Linked DNA regions of Homo sapiens: regions 2, 3, 4 and 5 are each linked to region 1. Evidence: fine-mapped expression QTL. A gene starts in region 1. Each other region holds a variant in brackets. All regions are shown on one strand. Distances are between the middles of the regions. Region 1 holds the start of PRKCB (protein kinase C beta). Region 2 overlaps PRKCB (protein kinase C beta). Region 3 overlaps PRKCB (protein kinase C beta). Region 4 overlaps PRKCB (protein kinase C beta). Region 5 overlaps PRKCB (protein kinase C beta).

Region 1 (6,306 bases):
GCATAGAAGATCCGTGGTAAAAATGTTTAAAAATCGCCCCCGATCTCAGCAAGAGACAAAGACTGAAACTGATTCATGGAAGTGAAAGGCAACCTCAAAGAAGAAATTACACATTCCGGTGCCAAGACACCATTGGCATTTTGTTTGAGGGGTCAAAGTTCTAGAAAACAATCCAAATTTGTTTGCACCAGGGCCTAAGTTGTTGCCACTTAAAGAGACTTGAGGAGTCCTCTGGTGTGGTGCAGAGGATCCAAATCTTGGTAAGACAGGCTGGGTAGGTTGGCAGGGCTCACTGAGCCCACCGGGACCCCGATCTCAGAAGAGTATGCAAGAGTCTCAGAGGAGCACAGTGCCATGCTGCCAGCAAGCAAACATTCTGCACCACTGACGATGCCACCTACACTCACTAGGGATCACTTTACTTTTCCCTGGAGGGTGGAGGTGCAGCCACAAAACTGTCAGTCAGTGCTAAATCACGTCAGACTCTTCCACACTCAAATACTTTCTTTTGATTTAAACCCAGCTCACCAGGGTGGTGGTCACTTTGCCCCTAAAGATACAATACCCCAGAAATGTGCCGTTTCTTACCAAACTCAATCTTACCAAGCCCAAGAGTGAAAAATTAAAATTTAAATTAAAAAGAAAACATAACACACAAACTTTCCAGATGAGAGGTTGCAAACTTAAATGCCCACAGGGGCCAGAAATGGGTGAAGTGTTCCCCACTGGGATCAACTGAGACAAAATGGTAAGGCTGTTCCCCATCTACGACGACGGCTCTCAGCTCCAAACGATTGTTTTCAAGCGAAAGTGAGACCATTTCTCAGCAAAGTTAAAGTTGGAAATTAGGATGTGTATGTGAAATCTCCCAGTTCTAAAACGTTCACATCAAATTCACAAGTAAGACACCCTAAGGGCTACACAGAGCTGCGGGTAACTTTTGGTCCTGGAGAGCCAATTTGCAATCTGTCTTTTAGACATGAGCCCCAAAGACGGGGGAGGGGGACACTTTACACGTGATCAACTCACCACCAGCAGGTTTGATACCCCTGGTTAGAGTCCAGGATCTCAAGCCAGATGCAAGAACTCAGGTAACCAGTGCCCTGGAGACCTTTCTGTTTCAACCCAGAAGATAGGGTGATTTAAACCAGGATCTGAGAAACACTCCCTCTGGAAATACTTCTTTCAGAGAGAGAGGAGGCCCAGGCGACAAACACAGTCGCCTTTCTAGGGGATGCACCATCTGCAGAGGAGCGGCAGCCACCTGCAGAGACCTCTGCAAGGCAGGGAGAGGCAGAACCTCCCTGGGTGAGATAAGGAAGGGACATGGGCAGAGAAAGGGGAACTAAGGAGGACAGGTTCTCCCAGAAACGTCCCGGGAAAACACTTTCTCCCCCAGCGGAACTGACCATGCCAGGATTGCTTCAGGAGACCGCTTTGACTCTTCCAGAGCCGGGAAGGCAGGAAGGGTAGGTGAACTTCCTTGGCATGTAAGACTCCCAAGCGCCATCGGCCCCAGTCACACACACACCCCTTGAAAGGACCCTGTTGTGGTGAAGAATTCCTAGCCTGGGAGGTCACTCCGACCAACGTGATTCTTTCACTCTCTGCCTAACTCAGTAACTTCTTCTATAAAGTATTTTTCACCCTCTCTTCCCACAAATAGCATCCCCAAAGCCCCAGAGCCTACCTTGGCACTGGAATCCCTGCTTCCCGAAGCCCCTGCAAAAGCAGAAGGAGGTGTATGTCAGGCAGCCCGGGGGGCCCAGCCTCCAGCTAGTTACCCACAGAGTCACCCGCCTTCCTCCCTGCCTCTGTACCCCAGGTGCAAACTCCCAGCCACAGGCGGGTGCCCAAGAGTCTTCCGCCTTTGTGGGGGTAGGTGGGAGCTCGGCTGTAACCCCCATCTGCCTTCACTCCTGCAGAAGAGAGGAGGCTGCGACCACCAGGTGGCGGGATAGTGGGGAGCGTTTCCGTCGGGGTAGGGGCTGAAGGCAGGCGACAGATGTACCCATAGATGCCCCGAGCACCCTCGGGAAAAGAGAAGAGATAAAGACGCATTCAGAGGGAGGGCGAGAGTGACCCCGCGGCGGTGGTGTCCTCTGGGAGGGGGACTGGGAAGGAGGAAAGGATGCCCCACTACTGGAGGGACTGGGGAAGAAAGGGGCCCGCAGTGATGTGACCGAGGAGTGGAAAGGGGAACCCAGGCCCTCGGGGAGGGGCAATGGGAGATAACACAGGGCGCTGCCCGGAGGCACAGAGGAGTGAGAAAGGATGTCCCATGCCCGCAGGGAGATAGAGAAGGACACCCAGGGCGCCGCCCCCCCCGGAAACAAGGGGTGGGGGGCGAGGGCTCCTCGCGCCCGGAAGCAGGCGGAGAGATAGGGAACCCCGGGTCGGAGAGCACCCGAGGCGCTGCCCTCCAGGGCAGGCACAGACCCCGCGCGCTCCTAGTCAGGTGGAGCAAAGGCTCCCGCGACGCCGCCCCTGGGCGCTCTAGAGGCGCCTGAGAGCAGGAGAGGGCAGGAGGCGCCCCGCGGCGGCCCGTCTGGGACCAGGGTGGGGACAGGGCAACGGCAGGACTGTCCATCCGGGAGTCCCGGGCAGCAGGGTCCGGAGCCGGGAGTCCGGAGACGCGGGGTCCCAGGGTGCGGAGGGCGCGGAGGGCGCAGAGGGCGCGGAGAGGGGGTCCCTGGCGCGGCGCTGCCCTCGGGGGCCCGGGAAGGTGCCCTGCGCGCGCGCGCTCACCAGATGAAGTCGGTGCAGTGGCTGCAGAAGGTGGGCTGCTTGAAGAAGCGGGCGGTGAATTTGTGGTTCTTGACCTCATGCACGTTCTTCTGCCGGAGGGCGCCTTTGCGGGCGAAGCGCACGGTGCTCTCCTCGCCCTCGCTCGGCGGCGGCCCCGCAGCCGGGTCAGCCATCTTGCGCGCGGGGAGCCGGAGCCCGAGAGGTGCCGGCCCCGGGGCCGCGGGACCGCGGGCTGCGGGCCGGGGAGGCGCGGGAGGCGGCGGCCGCTGCTGCACCCGGGGCCGCGGGCGCTTCCCCTGCGCCGGCTCTGGCGGCCGCGGCGCGCGGAGCCGGGGCTGTCACTCGCCCAGCTGCTGCCGCTCGTCCAGCTGCGCTTGGCACCGCTGGCCCCAGCTGCGGGGGAGGGAGGCGGAGCCCCGGGCCAGCCCCGCCCTCCTCATTTGCATCGCGCCCAGGCCCCGCCCAGCGCTGCCAGCTGCTTTACATATCGGCGCCCGGGCTACCGCGGGCCTCGCGGCTAAGCGTGCACAGCCGCAGCTCTGCAGCGCCGGGACCGCAGCCCGGGGTCGTCGGACCCGAGCCTCGCCCCCCACCCCACCCCGTCCTCGGCCCCCGGGGCTGCGTTCAGGAGATGTGCCCAGGGGAGGAGCGAGAGTGGAAAGACCTACGGGGCGAAGGGGAGCGGGTGGAAGGGGTGGGGCGCAGCGAATTCCACCCCGGCCTCTGCGGAGACTGGTACCCATCCACCCCCATCCATCCCATTGGTCATTCTGCACGCGTCTCCTGGAGGGATGGGCTCCCGCTGTCACTCATTCGGAAAGGCTTGTGGCCGCACACACTTACACACACATACACACACACGTTCTGCAGAGGTAGGGGAGGAGCGATCTTTATTTTATATGTCTCTAACTCCACCACAGAGAAGATTCTTGGCTTTGCTTGCCTCCTGCACGTTTGGAAGAGAACTCCCTACCTTCTGTCCATCCCCTCTGCAAAACGACTCCGTTTCCCCAACTGTAACATAGGGCTAATAGTGTGGGGAGGAAGGATTTCAGTAGATCAATATTTTTCCAAATTTCATTCATTTCTGACTCGTCTTCACAAATTCTGGTCGTATTTGTGCACCCTCTGGGGGAAAAAAAGCCTATCTCTTTTGGTCTGAGTTTGAACAGCAAGAGGTATCTACATTATTAAAATATCTCCAGGTGCCGTCATCTGTCCTAAGCATCTTCGACTGAAGTCATCTTTTATTTGTTAAGAGAGGAAATTAATAAATGCTAGAGGGGTGTTAAAGACATTACTATCCAACCAGGACTCTCTCCTTGATGTGATCTGAAGGTAACTGAAAGGGTAATAATTGTCTACAATGTGTAATTCAATGTTATTTAGCGCCCTGTTCATGCACAAGGCCTAAAGATACCCACTGCCACCATGTCCCCCACTCTGGGAACGCAGAGCTTCATTAGGCTGTGAGCTCCTTCACCAGACCTAGGCTCTGTGAGAGCAGGGGGGCTGTTCACCACCATGTCGCCCAGCACCAAGCTCAGTGCCTGACACCTCCCAAGACCCCAGTAAATATTGGTTGATTGAGTGAGGGCATGGATGAACAAGTGAATGAATGAAGACTTAAAGGTCGGCACTTCTTACCCCCACTCACACCCAGTAGGTGTTTAATAATAAATATCAAGTGATTGCTGGGCATCAGGTACTTGTGCTGTCTTATTTAGCCCCCGCAACAACCCTATGTAGATCTGGTAACTTTCATTATGGATAAGGATGGGGAGGTTCAGAGTGATTAAGATACACCCACAGTCATACCGTTGCTGAATGGTGATTGGGCTGGCCTGACTACAAAGCATCCTGGTGACAAAGGGGTGAACCTGAGTAGTGGTGGATGAAGGGGGGCAGGCTGGAGTTGCACGAGCTCAGGTCCCACTATGACAATTTTGCCTGGAAGCTGCTGAGTGGTAAGTCATTATTAGGTAGCATGTCGAGAGCAAGGGCTGCAATAATAGAATGTCCCTCTCCTACATAGTAATTCAAAGGTAAGGAGGAAAAAATAGCATTCACTTTTAAGGTTGACATGTTTGGGAAACTGGATGTGCCTGTCTATTATTAGTCCTTGAAGAGGCCCCACCACCTCCCAGGGAGGCTTGGGAAAACATCCCAGGAGACATTGCTGCTGAAGTAGATTTCCTTTGAACTGATGAGCTGGAAGCTCACAGCCCACATCCTGCCTTTTGAATGAAGTGCCCTGGATGACTTTGGTCTGTAACAACAAACAGTACCTCATGGCGCCGGGGCCTGGGGATGCAAGGGCTGTGGATGGAAAAGAGCCACTTGGTTCCTGAAGGCGTTGCACCAAGTGAGGATGAGAAATGTGGTTCCCATTGGACCCAGATTCCTGTAGGTCAGGGTCTCAAACTGGTGGCTCCAGATGCTCTATTTTTTTTAAGCTAGCCCAGTGGGTTGTTGTTGTTGTTGTTGTTTTTTAAGTTCACGGGTCATAGAATTTTACTTAAATATCCAGATTCTGACTTATCTAGGAAAAAAGATAGAGCTAAATGGAGCCTACATTCCTCCCTCACTCATACATTTGTTCTTTCAATCAACAAATTGCTTATTAAGCACCTACTGTGTGCTGTTCCAGATACTGTTAAACAAACCAGACAAAGGTCCCTGCCCTAGTGGAGCTTATAGTCTAATGGGGAAGGGGGAGTAATAACCTAACCAACTAACGAATCCATACCTGGTGGTGTATAATAGAATGTTTGTAAATAAAAATAAAGCATTATTATAAAGACCACAGGGAAATCCTTTATAATATGGGGACATCTGAGTAAGGCCTGAATAAAGTGAGAGGGTGAGCCAGGGGACTATCGAGAGTTTCCAGACAGAGAAAACAGAAAATGCAAAGAGCCTAGGGGAGTATCAAGCTTGGTATGTTGGAGAAATAGCGAGAAGGCCTCAGTGGTTGGATGAACAGAGAGGAGAGAGGACTTATGAGATGAGGTCAGGGAGGTAGCAGGGCCCCAAAGGGCTTTGCAAATGTGATAAGGAGTTTGGATTTCACTCCAGTGAATGGAAGCCATTGGAGGGTTGGAAGCTGAGGAGTGGCCTGATACAACTTATGGGGTTTTCATTTTAAAAGCTTACCCTAGCTACTATGTGGAAATTAGAGGAGAAAGGGTGGAGGCAGGAAGAGCAGTGAAGAGGTCAACTGAGCAGATCAGGCAAGAGATTAGGGCAACATGGCATAGTGCCAACAGGAGCTGCAGGGCAGCAGCTCCCCGTAGATTGGGCATGGGTCCTCCTTGCCACCAGAGCCCCCCAGGCCCACTCTGCTCATGAAGGAGTGAATGCTGGTCACTTGAAAGATTTCAGAGGCAGTGAGGGGGCAGGTTGCTGTGGCTGAGAATGGAGTCCAAGGTCCCTTTGCTCCAGACCTGTGGCTGCCATAAAAAATTATAACAGAACAGGGTGGCTAGAAATAACAAAAATTTATTCTCTCATCATTCTGGAGGCCAGAAACCATAAGTCACAGTGTCAGCAGGGCCA
Region 2 (6,306 bases), 78 kb before region 1:
CGTGTTTGAGGAAGAGAAAAATAAATGTATATGATGTGCATGTACATTATGAACTATTTCCAGAAGTATACACAATAAATTGGTATTATTAGTTGAATATTGGGTGCCAAAAAGGAGGTGAACAGAGTGGCCTAAGGGCTAGGGATAGGAGAGAAATCTTTCAATAAAAGTATTAAAGCTCTTGTGCCTTTTTAATTTTGAACCAGTGAGTACATATAACTATTCGAAATTTAATGTTAACCTTTCTACAAATGAGACCATAGAAACAATTATAGAATAGGATACAATGATGCATAAAAAAAGATACTGCAATATCGAGCATGGTGCTCAAGCCTGTAATCCCAGCACTTTGGAAGGCTGAGGTGGGAGAACTGCTTGTTTGTGGCCAGGAGTTCAAGACCAGCCTGGGCTACATAGTAAGACCTCGTCTCAAAAAAAAAAAAAAAAAAAAAATTAGCCACATGTGGTGGCATGCACCTGTAGTCCCAGCTACTCGGCAGGCTGAGGTGGGAGAATCGCTTGAGCCCAGGAGATTGAGGCTGCAGTGAGCTGTGATCACCCCACTGCACTCCAGCCTGGGCAACTGAGCAAGATCCTGTCTCTAAAAAATTAAAATTAAAATTAAAGAAAAGATACTGCAGATCTATATTTCTTAACTCGGAAAGACATTCATCATATATTAATTGTGAGGTAGGGTAAAAAGCAGATTTCTGAATAACATGTATTAAGTTTGGTTTCTAATTTTAATTTAAAATACATATAAATGTAGATTGATTAAAATATGCTAAAACATAAACAGGAATGTTAACGATCGAGTTTTTTCTGAGTAGTGGAATTAGAGGTGATTTTTATTTTCTTCTCTTTGTATACCTTCATTTTCTAATTGTTCTATCATAAGCAAGCATTTAAGAATTGTAAAAAGTATTTTTAAATTAAAAAAATAAAGAATCCATCTTTCTGCTTTTTTTTTTTTTTTTTTTTTTTGATAGAGAGTCTCACTCTTGCCCAGGCTGGAATGCAGTGGTGCAATCAAAGCTCACTGCAGCCTCCACCTCCTGGGCTCATGCAATCATCCTACTTCAGTGTCCACTAGTAGCTGGGACTACAGGTGCAGGTCATCAATTTTTGTATTTTTGTATTTTGTATTTTTTATAGAGACTGGGGTCCCACTGTGTTGTCAGGGCTGGTCTAGACCTCTTGGGCTCAAGCAATCCTTCTGCCTCTGCCTCCCGAAGTGCTGGGGTTACAGGCGTGAACTACAGCTCCCAGCCTCTGCTTTTGTTCTACACAGTTCACTCCTTCCGGGGCAAGGCAATGGCTCTGACACTGCTGCAGGACTTCATGGTGAATTCCTTATTTGGAGGGACAGCATAGGGGCCGCCAGAAAATATCGCCATGGCCAGAAGCAGAGCAAGGGAGAGAGGGTTTTAAAAGGCAGGGCTGTAAACCTCAGCATAAAATAAGCAGCCAGCCTCTCATTTCAGTCATGTAAACAGTAATGTGTATTCATTAAAACTGCATTAGTCTAAGGAGTCCCCAGAGATCAGGGGCTAACGGGAGAAGGGGTAGGGGAGAGGCTGCCAACTGCACCTGCTGTTTTCTAACACAGTGCAAACAGGCCAAAAGTGGGTTTCTGGTGCATGTCACAGCCAGAAAAGGCTGCCCAGAGGGGCTTCACAGCCCCCATCCATCTTGTTAAAGGTAAACAGACATGGAGAAAACAGAAGCACCCAGGACCCCAAACATCTGGCTTGGACTGGCTTGACCCCAGTGTGTTCTGCTTAAATAGTTTTCAAGGAGAATATATGCTTAAAAGCTGAGGCACGGTGGACATCACCAGTACAGTCCACTGCAGAGCTGGACTGGCCCATGAAGAAGACACTACAGGCAGCCTCCTCCCCCTTCATCTAGAACCCAGGCATTGCCCAAATGAGTGAAATCGATTGGGCACAAGAGCTGTGGCCAACACATATTGAAAGCTCCCTGTTCTAAGGGCTGTGCAGGTCTTAACTCATTTAAACCTCCCAACAGCCTTGTGAGGTGGGTGCTATGTCATCCGCACTTATGGGCAAGGAAAATGAGGCATAGAGACATTAATTAATTTGCCCAAGATCACCCAACCAAGGGGTGGTGTCCAGACTTACAGAGAAATCTCACTCCAGAGCCCACAATCTTGGTTCCAACACCATTCTGCCTCTCCCAGATGCTCACCAAGCATCCAATTCAGGGTGGAGTTTCAAGACAGTGACTTATGATGCTGTGCTAAGGATCTTCTGGGTAGCTAATGAGAAAAGGAACCACCACTGCCAAATCCACAAATGCCAATGATGGGCTGTACTGGCCCCACTGTGTTGATTAAGTAACTGAGGCTTAAAAGCCTAGGGATATTTCAGCTGTTCAGGAAGCTGAGGCAGAAGGATCACTTGAGGCCAGGAGTTTGACATGAGCCCGGGCAACATAACAAGACCTCATCCCAAAAATAATAAAATAAAATGAAAATTAGCTGGGCAGGGAGGCACATGCCTGTAGTCTCAGCTACTTAGGAACTCGGGAGGCTGAAGCAAGATTGCTTGAGCCTGGGAATTTGAGGCTGCAGTGAGCTATGATTGTGCTACTGCACTCCAGCCTGGGCAACACAAGAGC[C/T]TGCCCCAAAAGAAAAGAAAAAAAAAACACAGCTTGGGGATATTTTCACATACTGGGGAGCATTCCCACCCCTACAACAGGATTGGAAAATGGGGGCCATCTCTGTCCCAAGGCAAATGGCACACAGGGGGCACAGCTTAAGCTAAGGAAACTCAGAGGAGCAGCAACAGTCCCTGGAGGGAGGGAGCCAAGTTCCCTATTCCTTTCGTGGAGCATACAGCCAAACATCACCTGCACAGGAATTCTGAGATGAAGGACAAAGAGGACTCAGGAGATTTTAAGAGATTCTTCAACCCTTCCTGCACTGAGCCAGAAAAGTCAGAAGAGCTTCCTTCCCCAGAAATGGAGCAGAGCCACAGCTTCATGCTTATTTTTTCCCCTCTCCTAAGATATCACCGTTCAGACTCAAGCTTTCAAGGCTAGCTAGTCTGATGTTAACCATTTTTGTCACATTATTCTCCTCCCGCACTCAGAAATGACTAGCTTGGCTTTCCCACTTCTACAACCTTGGGAAGAAGGGGAAGCTGAAGTTCAGAGCTCCAGGTCTGCCTTTTCACCCAATAGTGGGCACCATTGAAGGCTTATCTCCCCAGTGATATGATGTCTACACTGACTGCCTCCCTCACCCATGGCACTGGGACTCTATGATCCCCTCCTTGACTAAGCCTGGCCAGTCAGATTTTTTTTTTTTGACATGATTTGGGCCCAATAGGAGGAAGGTCGGTCTGGCTGAAGGAAAGGAAGAGAACTGGGAACTGGAAGACAGTTGGGTCTCCCCTTGTGTTCTCTCGGCTTCTCCTTGTCCATATTCATGGTTCTTGCCTCTCGGTACACCTGCTTTCCTGTTCCTTACTCTACATACTGGATGGAAGATGGCCTCCCAGGGCTGCCTGGTGTCCACCTCCTTGAACCTCAGCCTCCATTCTGAAGTCTGTGAAACAATCTGATTTGCCTGCAATCCCAGCATTTGGAGAGGTCAAGGTGGGCAGATCGCTTAAGCCCAGGAGTTCAAGACCAGTCTCTATAAAAAATACAACAATTAGCTGGGCGTGGTGGCACATATCTGTAGTCCCAGCTACTTGGGAGGCTGAGGCAGGAGGACAACTTGAGCCCAGGAGTTCGAGGCTGCAGTGAGCTTTGATTGCACCACTGCACTCCAGCCTAGGCAACAGAGCATGACTCCATATCAAAAAATAAATAAATAAATAAATAAATAAAGGCCAGGCACGGTGGCTCACACCTGTAATCCCAGCCCTTTGGGAGGCCAAAGAGGGTGGATCACCTGAGGTCAGGAGTTCGAGACCAGCCTGCCCAACAGGGTGAGACCCCATCTATACTAAAAATACAAAAATTAGCCGGGTGAGGTGGCACACGTCTGCAATCCCAGCTACTCTGGAGGCTGAGGCAGGAGAATCGCTGGAACCCAGGAGGCGGAGACTGCAGTGAGCCTAGATCACGCCACTGCACTCCAGCCTGGGCAACAGAGAGAGACTCTGTCTCAAAAAAAAAAAAAAAAAAAAAAAGAAGAAAGAAAGAAAGGAAAAGAAGAAGTTAACTAAACAGTAAAACCACAGGCAAAAAGTAACAGCAAGCAGGGCAAGCATCAGGACACGGGGCTGACCAAGATTCAGTAGAACAGGGGCCTCCAGGGAAGGTTCTGTTCATCAGCAGCTGTTCACCATTGATCAGGTGAGGCTGCACTATGAGAGGAACAATGGACTACTTGAATATAGATGCTACCCTCAAGTGGCTTATAGCAGAGGCAAAAGATTCTCCAACAAAATCATTAGTGAGTATAATAATATGAGGGGAAATGCAATTAAGGGTTAAACGGTAGATTCTAAGTGAAAGATGATCTCTGAAAAGTCCAGCTCCCTGGAGGGTATAAAGGGGTGGCGCAGTTAGGTACAGTGGCTCATGTCTGTAATCCCAGCGCTTTGGGAGGCGGAGGTGGGTGGATCACCTGAGGTCAGGAGTTCGAGACTAGCGTGGCTAACATGGCAAAACTCCGTCTCTACTAAAAATACAAAACTTAGCTGGGCATGGTGGTGCGCACCTGAAATCCCAGCTACTCGGGAGGCTGAGGCAGGAGAATCACCTGAACCCAGAAGGCGGAGGTTGCAGTGAGCCGAGATCCTGCCACTGCACTCCAGCCCGGGCAAACAGTGAGACTCCATCTCAAAAAAAAAAAAAAAAAAAAAAAATGTGGGTCGCGCATATCCCAGGACAAGACAAACGGCAGTATCTTTGAAGAAGGACATCTCATGTAAGACAGTTCAGAGGCCAGCGTGGCTGCACTGAGGCTCCTGGGAACAGAGGCACCACAGGCTGGAAAGGTGAGTGGGAAACAGTTGATGGAGGAGGTCATGTCCAAGCAGGATTTCTACTCTTCCATCACTGCAAACCACGTTTATGACGTTTGTCATGTCCACACACCATCTGCAATATGATTAATAGTTTTCTTTAAACTGACTTACTTTTCAACTTAAAGTCACTCAGGAAATGGCCTGCAAAAGTTAAACACAGAGCTCTTATAGGGCCCAGCAATTCCACTCCTAGGAAGACACCCAAGAGAATTGAAAACATGCTTATACAAAAAATTGGACCAGGCATGGTAGCGCATGCCTGTAATCCCAGCACTTTGGGAGGCCGAGGTGGGTGGATCACTTGAGCTCAGGAGTTGAAGAACAGCCTGGGCAATAAAGTGAGACCCTGTGTCTACAAAAAATAAACAAATCAGTTGGGCATAGTGGCACATGCCTGTAGTCCCAGCTATCTGGGAAGCTGAGGTGGAAGATGATCACTTGAGCCTGGGAGTTCAAGGCTGCAATGAGCTGTGATTGTGCCACTGCGCTCCAGCCTGGGTGACCTTGTCTCAAAAAAAAAAAAAAAAAAAAAAAAAGCATATATACGTTTATGGCTATTTATAACAGCCAAAAAGTGGAAACAACTCAAATGCTCACTAATTGATGAATAAATAGACAAAATATGGTCCATCCACCCAATGGAAAGTGATCTAACCATTAAGAGGAATGAGGTACTGATACATGCCTTGGATGAGCCTTGAAAACATTATTCTAAGAAGCCAGTCACAAAGGATCATTCATTGTATGATTCTATTTATACAAAATGTCTAGGATAGGCAAATCTACAGAAACGGAATTAGTTTGTTGGTTACCAGGGGCCGCAGGGAAGAGAGAAAAAAAATGGAGAGCGACTGCTAATGGGGTTCAGGGTTTCTTTCGGGGGTGATGAGAATGTTCTGGAATTAAATAGTGGTGATGGCTTACAACATTATAAATATGTTTAAAACCACTGAATTGTACATTTTAAATGGTTAAAATGTGAATTTTACATTATATGAATTTTATCTCAATTAAAACATTATTTTTAAATGGGATTAAAAAAATCAATATCTCTGAATATAACTCTAAGTTTCCCATGAAAATAAAACACAACGAGAACAAAATAATGTTAGTTCATTCTGGCTTGACATCATTGCCTAACGGCCCGAGCCTGAGACCTGCTCTGTTTCTGTTAGGATGGGGGTCTGGGAGAAAAAAGCACATCAGCACCAACCTGAGGCTTTCTCCTCAGCCCGATCAGAAGGATTTGAAGAGAACAGAAAAGGGACTATGTTTCCCACACAGTGATCTAGTGTTA
Region 3 (6,306 bases), 160 kb before region 1:
GAGACTCCATTTCACACACACACACGCACGCACGCACACACACACACGCACGCACACACACATACACACACACACACCTGTGCTTTGGGATTTCCCTCTCTTGCCGTGCTTGGAACCGTGAAACTAAGCTAGCCTGGTGGAGGAAAAGAGGACGCATGGAGGAAAAATGAAATGCCCAGATCGACAGCCTGCCAGCCCTCAGTCAATGCTAGCAAGGCTGTTCTAGGTAATCCAGCATCGGCCCAGCCACTAGCTGACCAAGACCCAGGACAGAGCCCAGCAGGGATTACCCAAATAAACCCAGGTCAGAAGAATCACCCAAGTAACCCACACAATCATGAGAAACCACAAATAACTGATGTTTCAAGCCACTAAATTTTGGAATGGTTTGTTACAGAGCAAAATAACTAACCAATAAAGCAGAAATGGAAAAGTATCTTGCAAGTACTGGAGCTTCAGTTCCAGCCTTTGAGGTCCTTGGTCCTGAAGCTCTTACTCTACTCCCAATGTCCTTCTCAGGAGTCAATGGGCCCTCTTTTCCTACTGCTAATTTGAGCTGGATTTCTCTCATTTTCATTTAAAAAAAATTGTAAAGGTTTATTTCTTCTTTGTAATCAGGTACAATTTTAAATGAACAGAAATTCTTCGTTGCTCTAAAATTTAAGAAGTTTTACCCATGAAACATATTTGTCTGGGGTTTTACGAGAAGAAAAGATCCTTGAATAATGTTTTCATTTCTTTCTCGGTTATTTGCCTATTCTGGTTTTCAATTTCTTTTTGAGACAAAATTGACAATTTTATGAGAAAATCATCCATTTCAACCAGATTTTCAAACATGTTCTCACTTATTTACATACTTTAATGTATACATACATTTAATACTTTCATTTCTGTTTTATCAAATCTTCAACATTTAACAAGTTTAACAAGTTTATGATTTTTAATCTATCTTATCACAAAGTGAGACTTGATCAAAAGGATAAGGTCAACATTAGTGTCTACCATCTCTAATTGACCTGATTTAGTGATGGAATTAGGAGATCACAGGACCTAACAGTGGGTTTTACTCAGTAACTTGACTATAAATCATAAGAAATTATTTCTAAAGCCATAAAGTGTTGAAAAAGGTATCTTTAGACAAACCAGACAAAGAGTCCTTTTGTACTGCCTGCCCAGAGACCCTGTTCAATAAAGTTAGCTATTATTATTAGCTATTATTTCTTGGCAGGTCAGAGGGTAACCTGTATCCCTTATAGAGCAGGAGAGGCTCCTCCAGACATTAATAATGATTTTAAAACCAGGTATTGAGTGCCTTCTTTGTGCCAGACATTATTCTAGGGATGGTTCAAGCAGTCTCCTATTGAATAGTTACCAAAAAAAAAAAAACCGCTTTATTTAGGTATTATTTTCTCTATTTTAAAGACATAAACTGAGGGTCACAGAACTTAAAGTTATTTTCCCAAGGTCATTGGAGCAATACATAGCAGAGACCATTTGGAATTTGACACCAGCATTTTCTGGCTCCAAAGTTTGAGTTCTTTTCTTAGCACTGCATCACAGAATTTGAGGTTTGTGTGAAGTAATGGAAATGGAAACTGTAATCACCTCATAAGGGCATGCTCTGGGTGGAAGAATGTAGAGAATTGTCAGTACATTCTTGATTATGGACCTAGGTGGAGCAATGGAAATGGCCTTAGCTACATGTACCAAGGGCTTGCTATGCACTGTGCCAAGCGCTTTCATGTAAGGGCTTTGAAATTCATTTGTCTTTTGTTTGTGAACTCTTTCTCATTTTAAATATTTTTAAAATTATCACTATAAACCTATGTGGTTGGTACTAACATCCTATTTTACATATAAGGAGACTAGGGCATAGAGAAGTCGAACGACATGCCCAAGTTTTCCTAATGAGTATCTGGGCAGAATCAAGACTCAAATTCAGGTATGTCTGATTTCAGAGTCCATACTCTTAACCACCATTGACGTGATCAATAAACTGCCACATTAACCACTTATAGCTAGAGGTGGTTAAGTCCACTGGCGATTGAGGCAGGGAATAAATTAGGTGCATTCTTTTGATGAGGCCATCTATGACTCTGAGCCACACTATAACATGCAGATTTTTATAAAGTCCAGTGTGATGGTCTCCAGGGGTTCTGTTCTGCTATGGCCTCTTGGGTTAACAGGATCTGCAATAGATTAACCATAGATACTTCCTCTCCAATGAGGCACTGGAATCTATTTTTCTACCACTTGAATCTGGACTTGGCCAGAGACTAGCTTTTTAGGACATTAGCAAACATGATACAAAGGCTTAAAAAGTGTTGGGAGATGCTCTCTTGCTCTTCTTGGAGCCTGGAAACCACCATATGAACAAGTCAGAGCTAGCCAGTTGGATGGAGGATGATGCCACATGGACGAGAGCCAAATCACACAGGCCGACAACCTGCTCGTCGTCAGTCATGTGAAAGGGGCCATCTTAGATCATCCACCCACCAGCCAACCAACCAGCTATCCACAGACACAGACAAGAACCCCTTAAACTGTGCCCAGGGAAAGTACCTCACTTGACTCACCCTAGTCCCAACCCTCAGAGACAACTCCTCTGTTTCTTGTTCTGAGATGTCACAGGAGGCTGTGTATGTGGTCAGTATTCTGAGTGCTGAATAACCTATAATGTCCATAAGTAATGCTTATGACAGTACCAGAGACCTGGTCTCTCTAAGAGGTACAAGAGACAGATGAATTGAGGATTTCCTGCCTGGTGAGATCAAGAACAAGAAGGATGACTGTGGGTGACCAGGAGCATCATCCATGAACTCTGCCACACTTTGTGGCCCTCCAATGGCGAGTGCCCATAAATGTTGTCTATTCTCATTGTTATTGAATGGTTGGCTCAGTAGCTAGGTTCACGGGACAGTGCCTGGTTCATAAAATTGCCTCAATGTGATATGATGTGAACATAGCTGTAGGATAATGCCAACAGCACAAAGCTCTACTAATATCCATAATATTGCCTGGCTCAGACTGGGCTTGGAACAGCAGAGGGTAGAGGATGCAACCAAGCACATCCTTTATCGTGGATGGAGCCTTGTCCAAGGTCACCGCCTGTGTGTTTCTGCTTCACGAACTTGCTGCACACCAGTTCCTCCAAGGTCATGCAGAAGGAGAGGGCACCCCTCCATACCTGCATGAGTATCAGGGGCAGCTAAAGGAGAGTCTGGCCAGGTGGGCAAGCAGGTGTGGCTAGGTCTTTAATCATGCCTCCAACCATGAGCAGAAAAAGGTCAATGAACTGAGTCAAGCCAGTTCAGGTGTCTGGACCAATTCATCATCCTTGGTGCCAACTGACCTTTTTGGAACTGTATCCAGAGATAGAATCATTTCAGGTAGGCTGCCAAATCCTATGCATGCTGGCTGCAGGGAGTACTTCCTGCTCTCCTCATGCTCAAGGCAATGAATGGCTGCACTCCTTCATTCATACAGAGAGGGGTCTCATGCCACTTACAGAGCCTCCACACTTCTAGGAAGGACTGCCAGGTGGCAGACAGAGAACCTGCTCATTCTTCAC[C/A]CTTTCCTGGTCTGTCTGACAAGACACCTGTCCTTGCTGGCTGCTCAGCATGTGTGCACTGTTATTCATTGTCATTGTCATCATCATCATCACATATATAGCTCTTGCCATGCACCAGACACTGTCCTAAGTGCTTTTACAGATATCTATGTATTTGATACTCATAACAATGCTATCAAGTAGAAACTATTATTTAACTCATTTTTTAGCTGAGGAATCTAAGGCATAAATGGATTTAAGTTATTTGTCCAAGGTCACACAGATCTGAGGCTAGGAATGCTGGCTCCATAATCCGTGATTTTAACCAGGACACAATACCGTTTCTCTAGCTTTCCTCAGAGAAACTACCTCTTCCCCACTCTCAATCCATGGAAGGGGCACTCACGCCCTCATCTACGGTGTAGGCACAATGTATTAGTCAGGGTTCTCCAAAAAAAAATCAATAACGTGAATTGGTGTACATAATTATGGAAGCCAAGAAGTCCTACAGTCTTCCATCTGCAAGCCAGAGAACCAAGAAAGCCAGGGGTATAGTTTAGTCCAATGTTTGAAATCTGAGCCCAAAGACCTGAGAACCATAGGTGCCAATGGAGTAGGTCCTGGTCCACGTCTGAAGGACTGAGAACCTGGAGCACCAACACCCAAAGGCGGGAAAAAATTAATGTTCCAGCTCAAAAAGAGAGAGTGAATTTACCCTTCCTCTGCCTTTTTGTTCTGAGTCCTCAACAGATTAGATGGTGCCTGCCTATGTCAATGAAGGCAATTTTTCTACTCAGTCTACTGATTCAAATGATAATTTCTTGAAAACACCCTCACAGACATGCCCAGAAATCATGTATTACCAGCTATCTGGGTACCCCCCTTAGCCCAGTCAAGGTTAACTGCATGTGCAAAATTAACCATCACAAGTCCACCCTTTCTCAACTTGGCATCCATACACACCTTCTTAAATAAAGAACCTCCAAATAAAGAATAACAAGGACATAATTCCACCTGATGTGATACAATTAGACTTTGTACAACTGAAAATGCAATAATCCCCTCCCCAGAAAAGGAGATGAAGTCCTTGAGTAATGATTCCTCTTGTCCTGGTATCCTATAACTTAAATACTAAGACATAAAAATACTGATATAAAGTCAATACATCTTACGTTACATGATAAAGAACTAAAAGAGCAAAGAAAACAAAGATATTTGCTCACCATATGTATATATACACACAAACATATCCATAACAAAATAATGCCAATAATCATGCCAATCACAGTCCTTGTTTCTGTAACTGGTCACACGGTCATAGCTGGTATTTGTAACTACTTTCTTCTATTACCTATTCTGTATTCCCTTTACCTTCAGTGGGCACCTCAGCTGGTGGTGGTTCCTTACCTGGCAGGGTGACCCAAACCTTCATTCTTAAAGGGTCTGGGCCATTCATAGTTTTGCCTGTATTGAGTTGTTGTAGTTTTTCATTGATCTTAATCACAGGTAATGGTAATACTAAGAGATGTCTTTAGGGATCTCCTGTATCCAGACACATTTTTCCTTTTCTCCATTGTAGAGTAGTGTCCAATTTCCCCTTAGTAGTCCAGATCAATCACTCCAGCCAACTTCATAACTTCCTTCTTGGCCTGTTAACTCAGAGGCATGGGAACCCCAAAGTGGCTGGGTGGCAGTGTTAACTATCAATAGAATCATTGTTCTGTCTCCTGCTGGAAGTATTCCTCCCTCTGGAACTGAGACCTCCATGCTGGGAGAGCATAAAGTCATGGGAAAAGAAAGCAAAATTTTGCTGGTGGTAAAATTACTAGGGGTAATAATGAGTGGTACCACTCCCATTCCACTTCCTTGATTCCCAGATCCATAAATTTCTGGCTATCAGAGAAAAAGCACCATATACTAGATGCTGATTCAGAGCATATATAGCCTTCTGGAGAATCTTGCCCAGGCATGCAAGGTATTGCTACCTAGCTGGCAACATAACTGACTCTTCAAAAGGCCATTCCACCATTCTATCAAGCCAGCTGCTTCAGAATGATGGGGAACATGGTAAGACCAGTGAATTCCATGAGTGTGAGTTCACTGCCCACCTCTTTGGCTTTGAAGTGATTTCTTTGATCAGACACAATGCTGTGTGGAATTTCATAACAGTGAATAAAGCATGCTCTAAGTCCATGAATGGCAGTTTCAGTAGAAGCACTGCAGGCAGGGAAGGCAAATCTGTATCCAGCATGTCTATTTCCATAAGGATAAAATGCTGCCTCTTCCATAATGGAAGGGGTCCAATGTAATCAACCTGCCGCCAGGTAGCTGGCTGATAACCCCTAGGCATGGTGCCATATCAGGAACTCAGTGTTGGTCTCTGCTGCTGGCAGATTGAGCACTCAGCGGTGGCCATAGCCAGGTCAGCCTTGATGAGTGGAAGTCTATGCTGCTGAGCCCATGCATAACCTCCATCCCTGCCACCACGGCCACTTTGTTCATGAGCCCATTGTGTGATGACAGGGTGTCTGGGGAAAGAGGCTGCCTGGTATCCAAAGAACGGGTCATTCTATCAAGTCAATTATTAAAATCCTCCTCTGCTGAGGTCACCCTTTGGTAAGCACTCACCTAGGACACAAATATTTTCATGTTTATTGCCCACTCAGAGATGTCTATCCACACACCTCATCCCCACACTTTTTTGTCACCAATTTTTTCAATCATATTCCTTCCAAGTCCCTGCCCAGCCAGTCAAA
Region 4 (6,306 bases), 88 kb before region 1:
CTCTCCCCCTTCTTTCCACATCCTCCTTTACTTAGTTAAACCTGTCATCCTTAAGGTGGGACTTTGATATCATTTAGTCCTGGAAGCCTTCCTGATGCCTTCAATTAAGCACCCAACTCTACGCTCACACCATGCGCTTACAGCCATCACAGCACATATCTCACCGTACAGGCACCTGCCTGGTTAGCCATCTGCATTCTTTACCAGACAATAATTTTGGTAATAGCAGAGGCTACGCCTGTTGTGTTCACTGTGAGACACCTCAGCACCACCACCACCATACGCAGTAAGAAGTATTCAATAAATACTTTAATGGATAAATAAATCGACCAATGTATACATCGAAGCTTTTGAGAAAACTTGCTTTTAAAAATCTGGCAGGACAATTTTTTGAAGCTTGGGAGCTGCCTTGTAGACTGAGATCTTTTACCTGAATTTTGGGCAGCTATCCAAAGAAGAAATTATTATATAAAAGATGCCTGCACTCATACGTTTATCACAGTACAATAGCAAAGATATGGAATCAACTTAAGCATCAATCAATGGATGACTGGATAAAGAAAATGTATATATATTTATATATACATATATATTAATATACATATCATTGTGTGTATATAGACACACATACCACCATATATATACATATATACACGTATGTGTGTGGTATATGTATGTATATCTATATATACATACACACAATAGAATACTACTCAGCCATAAAAAAGAGTAAGACCTTTGATTTTATTTTTATTTATTTATTTATTATTTATTTTTTTTGAAACAGTCTCACTCTGTCGCCCAGGCTGGAGTGCAGTGGGGCAATCTCGGCTCACTGCAACCTCCACCTCCCGGGTTCAAGTGATTCTTCCACCTCGGCCTCCTGAGTAGCTGGGACTACAGGCACCCGCCATCATGCCCAGCTAATTTTTGTATTTTTGCAGAGATGGGGCTTCACCATGTTGGCAAGGCTGGTCTTGAAGTCCTGACTAAAACAGGGTCTCACTCTGTCACCCAGGCTGGGGGGCAGTTGTGTGATCATAGCTCACTGCAGCCTTGAACTCCTGGGCTCAAGAGATCCTCCTGCCTCAGCCTCTCAAGAAACTGGGACCACAGGTACACAACACGATGCCTGGCTAATTTAATTTTTATAGAGCCGGAGTCTCACCAAGTTGCTCAGGCTGGTTTCAAACTCCTGGGCTCAAGTGATCTTCCTTCGTCAGCCTCCCAGTGTGCTAATATGACAGGCATGAGCCACCATGCCCAGTCTGAAATCATGTCTTTTGCAGCAACAGGATGGAACCCAAAGCCATTATCTTAAAAAAAAAAAACTCAGAAAGAGAAAGTCAAATAATGCATATTCTTAGTTATAAATGGGAACTATATAATACACATAGACACAGAGTATGGAATAATAGTCATTCTCCAATGGCTACTGAATGACTGTTGAGTAATAGTCATCCTTCTTGGAAGGGTTGGGTGGGGGAGTGAAGGATAAGAAATCACTTAATGAGTACAGGGTACCCTATCTGGGTGATGGACATACCAAAAGCACAGATTCTACCACTAAATAACATATCCATGTAACAAAATTGCACTTGTGCCTTCTCAATTTATACAAGTAAAAACTTTTTTTAAAAAATTTAAGAAGTCCTCATGTTTGGAAGAGAGACAGGATGACCTCAGACAGGGATGCTGGGTTTCGGCACTTCAAGGCTGACAAGACAATGTCAAGAATGGAGTCCTTGGATCCCCAGTCCCCTAGAAATGGGATGCAAGCTCTCTGTCCTTGGAAACGGCCAACCTTAAGAACACAGGCATCCTGGTTAACGAGAGGAGGGTCACGTCCAGGAAGAGAGTGATTATCATGGCCACAGATACCCAATGACCAGTCAGGTCTGAAAGAGCCCCAATGGGCAAGTCCTGCAGAATGAAAAGGGAGAGAGGAGTGATCCACTAAGATGTTATCAGGGCAGAGGATGGGGACCCCATTGTAGGGCACTCCAGGCAAAATTTTACAGGAAGAAATAGCCAAGAAGTGACAATGTCAATGCTTTCCTATTTTATGTTCTTTCCATCCCATTCTCTCTTTCCTCATCTCTCAACATTCTTCTAGTCATTGTGCTCCATTTTCCCTCCACTGAGGGGTCATATTGAGGTAAACTAGAAGGCAGTTAAATAACTATACCCCAGATGTGCCAATCAATGGTCAAATATTGACCTGGAAGACCTTACCTAATGAATTGAAATAGGGTCCTCCCACTTGGTCCCAGTCCGTAAATCATTTTACCCAGGTCCAGAATGAACCTATATAGCATTTACTCATTAAATGAGCAGACAACATGTGATTGGGTGGGTCTAAGGAGACTTTGCAGTTTTGTTGTTGTTGTTTATAATTGACAAGTAAAAATTGTATACATCTGTAGTGTACAACATGATGTTTTCCTACATGTATACATAGTGAAATGGCTAAATCAAGCTATTTAACATATGCATTTTTTCGTAGTGAGAACACTTAAAATCTACTCTCTTGGCAATTTTCAACTATGCAATATATTGGAATTAACTAGTCACCATGGTATACGTGGAGCCTTTGAATTTTAGGATCAGGATGTAGAGATATCTTAGTTTATTAGGAAGTAACTAAACAAAGATAAATATTAGAGGCTTGTGTTTGGGTATTGAAAAATTAATTAATATATGTGTCACAAGAGGAAACAGAAACTAGATGGTTAACAAGAAGAACACAGAAATAGAGAAGTTCAGTTGTGTGGTGGTCGCCAGATCAAATATTCTGATTCTCCCCTCCTCCCAAGTACACAGCAATATGATACTTGCCCAGCCGCTTTGAAGTTAGGCATGGCCATGCGTATTAGTCGGTTCTCACACTGCTATCTTGATACTACCCGAGACTGGGTAATTTCTAGAGGAAAGAGATTTAAATGACTCACAGTTCCGCATGGTTGGGGAGGCCTCAGGAAACTTACAATTATGACAGAAGGCGAAGGGGAAGCAAGCTTGGACCTTCTCACATGGCTACGGGAGAGAGAAGAGTGAGGAGTGAAGGGGGAGGAGCCCCTTATAAAACCATCAGCTCTTGTGAGAACTCACTCAGTATCATGAGAACAGCATGGGAGAAACTGCCCCTATGATCCATTCACCTCCCACCAGTTCTCTCCCTAGACACATGGGGATTATGGGGATTACAATTCAAGATGAGATTTGGGTGGGGACACAAAGTCTAATCATATCACAATGTGACTTGCTTTGGCCAGTGATACACGCTTGGCAGTGACAAGTGTTTATAGGGAGCGCTTCAAGGACCAATACGAGACTTGCCAATCATTTTCCTCCCTCAGTGATCATGGAAGCATGCTTCAAGTTGGTGTGCTTCTATTGGGTAGGTTACTTCTGTGACCACAATGAGCAATCCCTTCCCTTACATGTTCACCCGTGTCAAAACAGGTTGATTATGGTTGGGACCAGAAATAATGTCTGGAACTATGGAGATGCCAATATCATCTCAGTATTAGGAGAAA[C/T]CCTGTCATTATTAGAGCTGCACAAACACACCATTTTGGGGGTAGCATGTTAGTAACTGAAGATTGGACAGTCACCAATGGCGTGCTATGAAGGGAATTCAAGCATTAGATGGTTCAGTGAGTATTCAATTAACCTTATTTTAATAACAATACCAAATATCCTTCTGGAGAACTATTCCTTTCCCACTCTTGGTCCACATAATTCAGGTAGTGTTAATTCCATCCGGAACTCCAAGAGTAGATAAGGGTGGTCAATCAGCACATTGCTTTTTCACTGGCCCTAGTAGCTAATTTAGAGCCTGTGAGATATAACAAGAGAAAGAGGTGCTCTTCTCTACATGGACTTGAACCTAGAGGAAATGTGAGTAGAGCTTCCATAGCCATCTCACCTTGATGAGGGGAGTCTCTTCCATCTGAGAAGGGAGCCAATACATAAGCAGAGATGGAATAAAGGAAACCATGTCCTGGAAACATAACAAACCCCTGGATCAGACAATACCTGAAGGCAGCTACCCTTGGACTTTTTGGTTTTATAAAGGCAATAAATTCCCTTCTGAATTAAGCTAGTTTGAATTTTCTGTCACCTGTCATAACCAAGATTCCTGCCTCATACAAAGGGTGGTTGAAATACATGAATTTTAAGGTTCTGTCCCAACCTGAAATTTTAAGATTCAAATAACAGCATTCACTAGCTAACTACATTTAGCATTAAAAGGTGTAGGTAGCTAGGAGGCAGGAAAAAAAGGTAACTCTAAAGAACAGACAGATCTATTAAGATTGGTCAAGGCTGCAAAAATCTAAACTATGTCTGTAACACTGGCTACCTAAATTAAATGCCCTCTGGATCTTAGCCACTGAGTGTGGCTCATGTGGACATTGGCCACCATTCTACCCATGAAGCCATAATTATAAATCAAACCACATTTCCTGATCCCTCAGTAAGGTGCAGCATTGTGTTATGCTGGCAGGAGCTACTGTGGCTAAGGCCCTGGAGGAAGGGTAGTTTGCTATTTTTCTTTTTGAAAATGTGTTGTCAAAGCAAAGGTGTCATTTAGAGAAAATGTAACTGAAGTTTCTGCAGAGATCATTCTGTAGTGACCAACACAGTCACTGTATATTTCAAAGTTGACATTTCCAAGATGTATCATAGCTCTTTCACATGCTATCATCACACAAAAAAACTAGGTAGCTCTGCTAAATAACATTTGCATATAGTCTTTAAAAATGCAAATAGAGTATAGATGAGAGGTTGCAGAGATCTAGCCTAGAGACATCTTTTTTTGGTCCATACCATGTCTTTAATAAAAAGAAAAACAAGAAATTTTGCATGAAATCCAGATTTCTGGCTTCTCTTGAAAAAGTAGAAGAGCTGGCAGCCCTAGGATCATATTCCAACAGAGGAAAAATTACTACTGGTGCCCCTTTAAACAAAACACCCACTATTCAATTCAACATGGGTTCCTGCCACCACCTCTGTTTTATACCCACCCACTTCACTCATTTAGGTCTCCTGCCTAATTTCTGTAGGATTTGAGTCTACAACTCTTTTACATTTACAAATTTGTCCACAGATAACTATTAAGACGTCATTTTTATCAGCCAATGTCCTTCTAAACATGCTGGAATTCAATGTTTTCATTATCATCCGATAGTGTTCTATGCACCATAACACCAAACATCTCAGTCAGTAATTACCCATGAACTTCCATGCCTTCAAGCCTTTGCTCTTACTGTTCCCCTGCCTGCTCTGCCCTTTCCCTAAGTCTTTGCTGTTGGAACCCAGCTGAGCCTATAAGATTCAACTCAAATGCCTTCTTCTTGTGAGGCCTGCCTTGATGCCCACCCAAGAATTAGGGTTCAGAATTAATGATCTATTTCCTGGCATTATTGTGATATGAGGGTATAGCATATCTTTTTTTATTTATTTTTTCTTTTTTTGACAGAGTCTTGCTGGAGTACAGTTGTGCAATTTTGGCTCACTGCAACCTCTGCCTCTCAGATTCAAGCAATTCTCCTGCCTCAGCCTCCCAAGTAGCTGGGATGACAGATGGGTGCCGCCACACCCAGCTAACTTTTGTATTTTTAGTAGAAACAGGGTTTTGCCATGTTGGTCAGGCTGATCTTGAACTCCTGGCCTCAAGTGATCTGCCCACCTGTAATCCCAAAGTGCTGGGATTACAGACGTGAGCCATCTTGCCTGGCCTAGCACATCTTTATCACACCTCAACCCTTATTTCTTCCCATTTTCTATAATAGTTTATAACGATCAGGCTGTCTCCTCACGAGACCGAAAGCTCTTCAAGGACAAGCACTAAGTCCCCAATACCTTAATGGCAACTTAATCACTTATAAGGTACCAGCACCTTACCTGTCTTTTCTCATTTAAACCCCACACAATCCCTATGAGGTGGGTCTTATTAATATTGCCATTTGAAAGATGAGGAAACTGAGACCTAGAGAGACTCAGAGCCCAAGAGTGGTTTTCTTAAGCCCTCTACTACTTGGGCACACATTCTTCATTACCCTGTGATATGGTTTGGCTGTGGCCCCACCCAAATCTCACTTTGAATTGTAATAATCCCTGCATGTCAAGGGTGGGGCTAGGTGGAAATAACTGAATCATGGGGGTGGTTTCCCCCATACTGTTCTCATGGTAGTGAATAAATCTCAGGTGATCTGACGGTTTCATAAATGGGAGTTCCCCTGCACATGCTGTCTCCTGCCTGCCACCATGTAAGACGTGACTTTGCCCCTCATTTGCCTTCTG
Region 5 (6,306 bases), 200 kb before region 1:
ATTACAGTCGTGCACCACCACACTTGGCTAATTTTTTGTATTTTTAGTAGAGATGATGTTTCGACATGTTGCCCAGGCTGACTCCTGAGTTCAAGTGATCCACCCACCTCGGTCTTCCAAAGCGCTGGGATTATAGGCATGAGCCACTGTGCCTGGCCTATTGTTTTTTTCTTTTTCTTTTCGTTTCTTTTTTTTTTTTTTTAAACGTCTTGTCTTAAGCCACCCAGTTTGTGGTATTTTGTTATGGCAGCCACAGCAAATGGATACACCTCCTATCAGTGTGTCCTGAGAAGCGGGGGCTTGTGATCCAGGTTCTCAAAGTTCACAGCATATCTATGATTAAGGGGGAAGACTTTGACCTTGAACTTGAAGAAATATTGTACTGTACCACATCAGAACAAAGACTCCCTAAGGAATGCCCATAGGAGGTGCCCTAGCCAAACCACAAAAGGAATAAATACGGTGGAGGGCATAGAGAAACGAAACGAAACTAAACTAAACAAAAAAGTAACCTACTATATAGTACTTTTGAGTCAAACAGACCTAGGTGAGGAAATGTGTTTTCTGATGGGTAGAATGATAACTTAACTCATTTGAGTTGTTGAAACAATGTAAATCAGATACTGCCTGTAAGTGCTTTTCACAATGATTAACACATTTTAAAAACTAAACACATCTTAGCTATTGTTTTATTATTATTGCAAATGGTGTGAGCTCTTGGAATATAACTTCTCTGAGCCGTGGCTTCTTTGTTCATAAAACAAGAATAATAGAAGGTTGGGCGCAGTGGCTCACACCTGTAATCCCAGCACTTTGGGAGGCCGAGATGGGCGGATCACTTGAGGTCAGGAGTTCTAGACCAGCCTGGCCAACGTGGTGAAACCCTGTCTCTACTAAAAATACAAATATTAGCCAGGCGTGGTGGTGGGCGCCTGTAATCCCAGCTACTCAGGAGGCTGAGGCAGGAGAATCGCTTGAACCCGGGAGGTGGAGGTTCCAGTGAGCTAAGATGGCGCCACCACACTCCAGCCTGGGCAACAGATGGAGTCTCCCTCTCAAACAAGAATAATAGAGATTTCACAATGTTGTGAAGGTGGAAAGAGATAACACGTAAGGTTTAGAGCACTGCACATCCCATGCGGCCCATAAATGTTGGCTGCCCGCAGTCATGCTTTGGAACGAGTGTATTTCCCACAGAATGACACCAGAGGGAAGCAGAGTCTCATATTTGTCTCACCAGCATCGGGAACCTCAATCAGTGGGGAAAACTGGCTTCCCTTGAACCTGAAACTGCGGGATTTCCCCTGGGGCCCCCAAGCATCACACTGGGAGGCAGGCGACCACTTGGAGGAAAACATAATGCAATGGATTGCACATTTTCTAAAATCTCACTGGGCTTCACGAAATCTCAAGTTTAAAAGAATTATATTGTACAGGGATAAGTATTTTTCAGCTTTTACACAATCTACGTAAAGCCCCTCCGCAACCCAGGGCTCAATGCATCAGAGCTACTGAACCAGTCTGAGGCCTCAGAAACACTAATTTTTGCAAAATTAATCTCTTCCATGATCAATTTCCTGAGTTACCAACTCATAAACCCTTATTTATATTCATTAGATATATAAAGTCCACAGTAGTTTGTCACTAGCCTTTGAGAAGAAATTCCTGCAAAGTTTTAGCTCCACTCCCAGCCAGCTCAGTGCTGGTTATACCGGGGCTTATGGCTGAGTATTCCTCAAGCCAGTGCTGCTGAGTTCCAATTTTGCTTGAACTTCCCATATCAGAGCCAGGTATGTCTTGAATGCTGGGATACATGAGTGACAGCCCCACCACCACCACCACCACCACCACCAGCAGCTCCTCCTCTCACTGCATCTCCCAGGAGACTGTACCATCCTGCTTTCTAATTATCATGAAATATTTTAGACATGCAGAAAATATAGAGAATAATAAAATTACAGCATAGCCACCATCAGGTTCAAGAAAGAAATATTTCAAATATGTGGAAAGCCCCTGAATTGCACCCTCCAACCCTCCTCCTTCCCAAGATATTATATTCTCCAAATCTGGGGTTTATCATCAAGACTCCATTTTTCCTGCTGGAAAAGTTTGCGGAAGAAGCAAGCTTCCCTTCTCTGCTATCTGAGTAAAGGAAATGCAACTACCCATCCCAAAAGATTACTAAAAAAGAGTGGGAAATGAGAAGGAGAGAAGGGAAGTGGAGGATCCTGAGGAAGTTAGAAGTCCAAGGAACTCAGACGTCTCCTCTCTGAACCCAAGTCAGCCTGGGGTGCTGATGGACGAAGCTTTGAGGGTGTACAGTTTCTAAAGATCCCCCTGCTGCAGGGAGGGGCTGTCATGGGCAGGGCATGGGGCAGAAGCAGTGCCACACCCCCTCCCCGTCCCTGGACTGCCCCACCCCTCCACTGGACTGCCCCACCCCTCCGCCACCCTCCCCTTCTCAATCACACAGGTCAAGCAAGGTCAGGAGCCAGTGGAGCCCCAGGGCCACCTACCGAGGACAATGAGGACGTCCCTGTCGATGTGGGCCTGGATGTAGATGCGGCCGCGGCGCTCCGTGTGGTCCGTGCCACACAGGCTGGGAACATTCATCACGCAGCGCTTGTGCACATTCATCATGCAGGCTGTGAGGGCAGAGAGAGGGGATGTGGCTTAGGCTGGCCCAGGCTGGGGGCTGCAGACATCTGCCCCACCCAAGACCGCTGAGC[C/A]CTTCCTGTTTCCCTCCTTTGAGACAGCTGAGACACACGAGCCTGGCTGAGACCAACTTGCCTGCCAGGATCTCATCAGAAGGGCTTTTCCAACTCTTCCCCCTGAACCCTGATGGGCAAAGGAGGTAGAACTTGTCTGTTCCCCACCCACAGCCAAGGGTGCAGTCTGAAGCAAGCACACCCCACACCCCTTAAGGCTCTGAAGCCAGAGTCACCAACTTCAATGCTCACAGGCTGGCTGGTCACATGAGTGAGGAAAGCTAAGGGGGTGGCAGGGACTTGGCCAAGCCAAGTGGGAAACAGAGCAAAAACATTCCCCATTTCTCAACGTATGCAGGAATCTCGATGTGTACGTGACAGCTCTGATTTTTAAATATTAACAGCTAATAGGTTGGGCTCCCTGGAAAGAGTCTGAGACGGGGAGTTTTGAGCACAAGGTTTTTGGGGAGTGCTCTTGTGGGGAGAAGTTCGTTTGCCACGTGGATGCAATCAAAGCTGATGTTAGGGGGAGCCCAGAGCTGAGATGACCCTTCAGAGTTGTTCCAAACTGAGACAAGAGGGCTGGGCACCACAATCATCTGGTCTCCCTGGAAGAGGCATTATCTTGGGCAATTATGCAGGATGGGGCACTGCTGTGAACCACAGCTAGGGGATGGGGTGGGACCATGAAGAGGGGGTCTGGGCTGGCCATAGTGTCCACCATAATTAATTACAAGGAAAAAGATTTAGAGCCAGGGCAGGGTGGATAAAATGTGCCTATACACTGAATTTGGCCTTCGGCCATCTCTCATGTTATAGGATATCCACTCCCTCTGCGCACTCCTCCGTAGAGTATCTGTGTCTATTTCAATGTGGTGGGTGATTTCTTCTAGGTCTTGAGCAATAATGCCCCACTCCAGGAAGGTGTGCCAGGCACCCAGGATTCTCCAGGGGGACGCTAGTTCCAGTTGGAGAAGCCAGAAGGAGAGGCCAAGTCACCCCATGGGCCCCTATTTCAAGGGATCTGGGGGCAAGGGACCCTTCTCAGACCACCCAAGTCCCAGGAGGCAGCAGGCCTATTACAAAAACTAGAAATGAGTTGTGGGGAGGGAAGGGAGAGCCCTCTGGGACCTGAGCACCAGCCTGAGCTCCCACCCACCACTGTCTCTGAGGCAGGGACATTGTCCCTATATTAGGGCCCCATGTGTGGTAAGAGGAGCTGGTGTCCTGCAGGCAGAAGGCTCCAACCTCACTGTCCCCCTGTGGCTCTTGCCATGTTTCTGTGTCTGTCTCTCTGTTTCCACGTTGCTGCATGTCTCTTGTCTCTGCTGTCCCACTTCTGCACGTGGCTCACTGCCTTGGCCGTGTCTGTGAATCGGTCTGTTCCACTCTCTGCACTTGTCTCTGGCCTCTTTGTCTCTCCCTTTCTCCAACTGTGTCTCTCTGCCTCTCTCCTCCGTGTCTCTCTGTGGCTCTCCATGTGTGCTTCTGTCTCTGTCTCTGGTCTTTCCATCTCTATACCTCTGCATGAGCCTGTGTAATGGCGTCTCTCTCTGTGTCCATGCCAATCATTTTATCTTTTCTTCTTCTTCTTCTTTGAGAGTCTCACTCTGTCACCCAGGCTGGAGTGCAGTAGTGTGATCTCAGCTCACTGCAACCTCTGCTTCCTGGGTTCAAGTGATTTTCCTGCCTCAGCCTCCCAAGTAGCTGGGATTACAAGTACCCACCACCTTGACTGGCTAATTTTTGTATTTTTAGTAGAGATTGGGTTTTGCCACGTTGGCCAAGCTGGTCTCAAACTCCTGACCTTAGGTGATCCACCCGCCTCAGCCTCCCAAAGTGTTGGGATTACAGGAGTGAACCACTGCACCTGGCTTATCTGTTGGTCTGTGTGTCTGCCTGTCCCTCCTTTTGCCTGAGTCTCTCTCTAGCTGAGTCTCTCTGTAGCTTCCACGCCCCACATTCCTCCCTGTGTTAGGGTTGCATGTGTCCATCTTTCCCCTGCATCTGTGTCTGTCTATGCATGTGTGTTTCTTGCTGTCTGTCTTGCTCCCTACCACCCTTATTCACCCTCACAGTCCTCTCTGTCACTCTCTGCCCTATGACTTTCTCCCTCTGTCCTCTGGGCCTCAGGACCCTTGGGAGAGCAGTACCACTAGCCTCATGACACCCAGCCTGCTGCAGACCAACAGGTCTGTGGGAGCCACCAGCACCTCCAGTGTCCCTGTAGCTTTGTGGCCATAGCTCTCAAAGCCTGTCTGCTCCCCTGCCCCACAGGCCATCCGGGCCTTGGCCTCATAAAGAGGAGTCCTACCCCACCTGCCTTTCCTACCACATCCTGGCCAGAGAATGATGCTCTTTCCTCCTCCAGCACAAACCTGTGGGTGCTGCAGGGCCACAGGTCTTCTCCATGCAAAGAATGCATCAGCCCCACATCTCAATGCTGAAAACAGTGGTGGTGCATGGCTGCAGAAATGCCCATGATTTGTTCATGCCTCTGGGTGTCAACAGCCATGGACTGCCCCTTCCCACACTGTGACTGTGCATCTCACATGCCACTTGCTTTGACCAGTGGATCAGGAGCAAAAGACACAAGTAGAGACTTGAAGTGTGGCTGCCAATGGGACTTGCCCTCCTAAGAAACTCAGGACCCTGTGACCTCCGTGCATGCACGGAGGCTAGGTAGCCTAGCCCACTGAGGAGGAAAGACACGTGGCCTGGTCATCACCATCACCCAGATGACAGCCAGCCATCCTCCAGGACATGTGGGTGAGGCCACCATGGCCCAGACAGCTCCCAGCCCACCTCCATCTGCTAATCCACCATGAACCATGAGTTCATGCTTTATGAACATGCGTGACATCAGCTGAGGCCAGCCCAGATTCAAAGAACTGCCTTGCAGAGTCATGAGCTAAAAAAATGTTTATTGTCTTCAGTCACAGTGTTTTGGGGTGGGAGGATCATTATGCAGCAACAGATAACTGGTACACCAGCCCCAACGAGGACAGGGGGGAATGTATGGCAGACCTGGACCCCAAACCAAGTGGAAGCAGCCCTTCCCATTGCTTCTGCCATCAGCAGATGCCCCCAGAGAGAAAAAGTACTTACTGTCACATTTCATCCCCTGGTGGATGAGTCCATACAGCAGTGACCCACAGTGGTCACAAAACGTGGGGCTGGAGTACGTGTGGATCTTAAACTTGTGTTTGCTGCGGGGGTCCTGGAGCCAAGAGAAACAACAGAAGGAGCCAGCGTCAGTGGAGCATGCCAACGGTTCATCCTACATCGAGAGGCACTGGAGAACTCACCAAGAACTGAACTTGGTCCCCAGAGGTCATTGTACCTGTTGGGACCATCGCTGGAGCCCTGTGCCCAGAAACGGTGCTGGATAAATAGTTGTGGAAGGAATGAAGGACAAAGACAGATGATTGTTCCCTTTGCAGCCCCATGCTCACTCACCCTGCCTGCAAACCCTCCATCTGGGCCTGCCTGGGAACTCAACCTACAGGCTCCTGCCTGTAGTAGGGACTCCAGAGATGGGAAAACAAAGTAACAGACACATCATCTAAACAGGGCTCCTGACTTTTCTTTCTCCCCA

What was found. PIP is the estimated chance that this variant, and not a neighbour inherited with it, causes the effect.
Region 2: its variant is fine-mapped to the expression of PRKCB in tibial artery (GTEx, PIP above 0.99).
Region 3: its variant is fine-mapped to the expression of PRKCB in cerebellum (GTEx, PIP above 0.99). The same link has a PIP of 0.9 or more in cerebellar hemisphere.
Region 4: its variant is fine-mapped to the expression of PRKCB in spleen (GTEx, PIP above 0.99).
Region 5: its variant is fine-mapped to the expression of PRKCB in blood mononuclear cells (TOPMed, PIP above 0.99). The same link has a PIP of 0.9 or more in CD4 T cells, T cells and whole blood.

The regions. Positions count from the first base shown.
Region 1 is chr16:23,832,791-23,839,096 of GRCh38, reverse strand. It overlaps PRKCB (protein kinase C beta), which reads right to left and starts at 3,114. Exons shown (of 17, transcript NM_002738.7): 1 at 2,749-3,114; 2 at 1,691-1,722. The coding sequence starts at 2,921. RefSeq lists enhancers at 2,009-2,148, 2,412-2,957, 2,958-3,505 and silencers at 2,459-2,538, 2,869-2,948, 2,979-3,618.
Region 2 is chr16:23,910,368-23,916,673 of GRCh38, reverse strand. All of the region lies in intron 2 of PRKCB (protein kinase C beta), which reads right to left. Among named protein-coding and RNA genes, the nearest start is that of PRKCB, 78 kb to the right of the region's middle. The variant C/T (reference allele first, on the strand shown) is at 2,644.
Region 3 is chr16:23,996,070-24,002,375 of GRCh38, reverse strand. The region is part of intron 3 of PRKCB (protein kinase C beta); the gene reads right to left. Among named protein-coding and RNA genes, the nearest start is that of PRKCB, 160 kb to the right of the region's middle. RefSeq lists an enhancer at 2,301-2,370. The variant C/A (reference allele first, on the strand shown) is at 3,572.
Region 4 is chr16:23,920,956-23,927,261 of GRCh38, reverse strand. The region is part of intron 2 of PRKCB (protein kinase C beta); the gene reads right to left. Among named protein-coding and RNA genes, the nearest start is that of PRKCB, 88 kb to the right of the region's middle. The variant C/T (reference allele first, on the strand shown) is at 3,540.
Region 5 is chr16:24,031,758-24,038,063 of GRCh38, reverse strand. PRKCB (protein kinase C beta) reads right to left here. Exons shown (of 17, transcript NM_002738.7): 4 at 5,817-5,928; 5 at 2,517-2,645. Among named protein-coding and RNA genes, the nearest start is that of MIR1273H, 170 kb to the left of the region's middle. The variant C/A (reference allele first, on the strand shown) is at 2,730.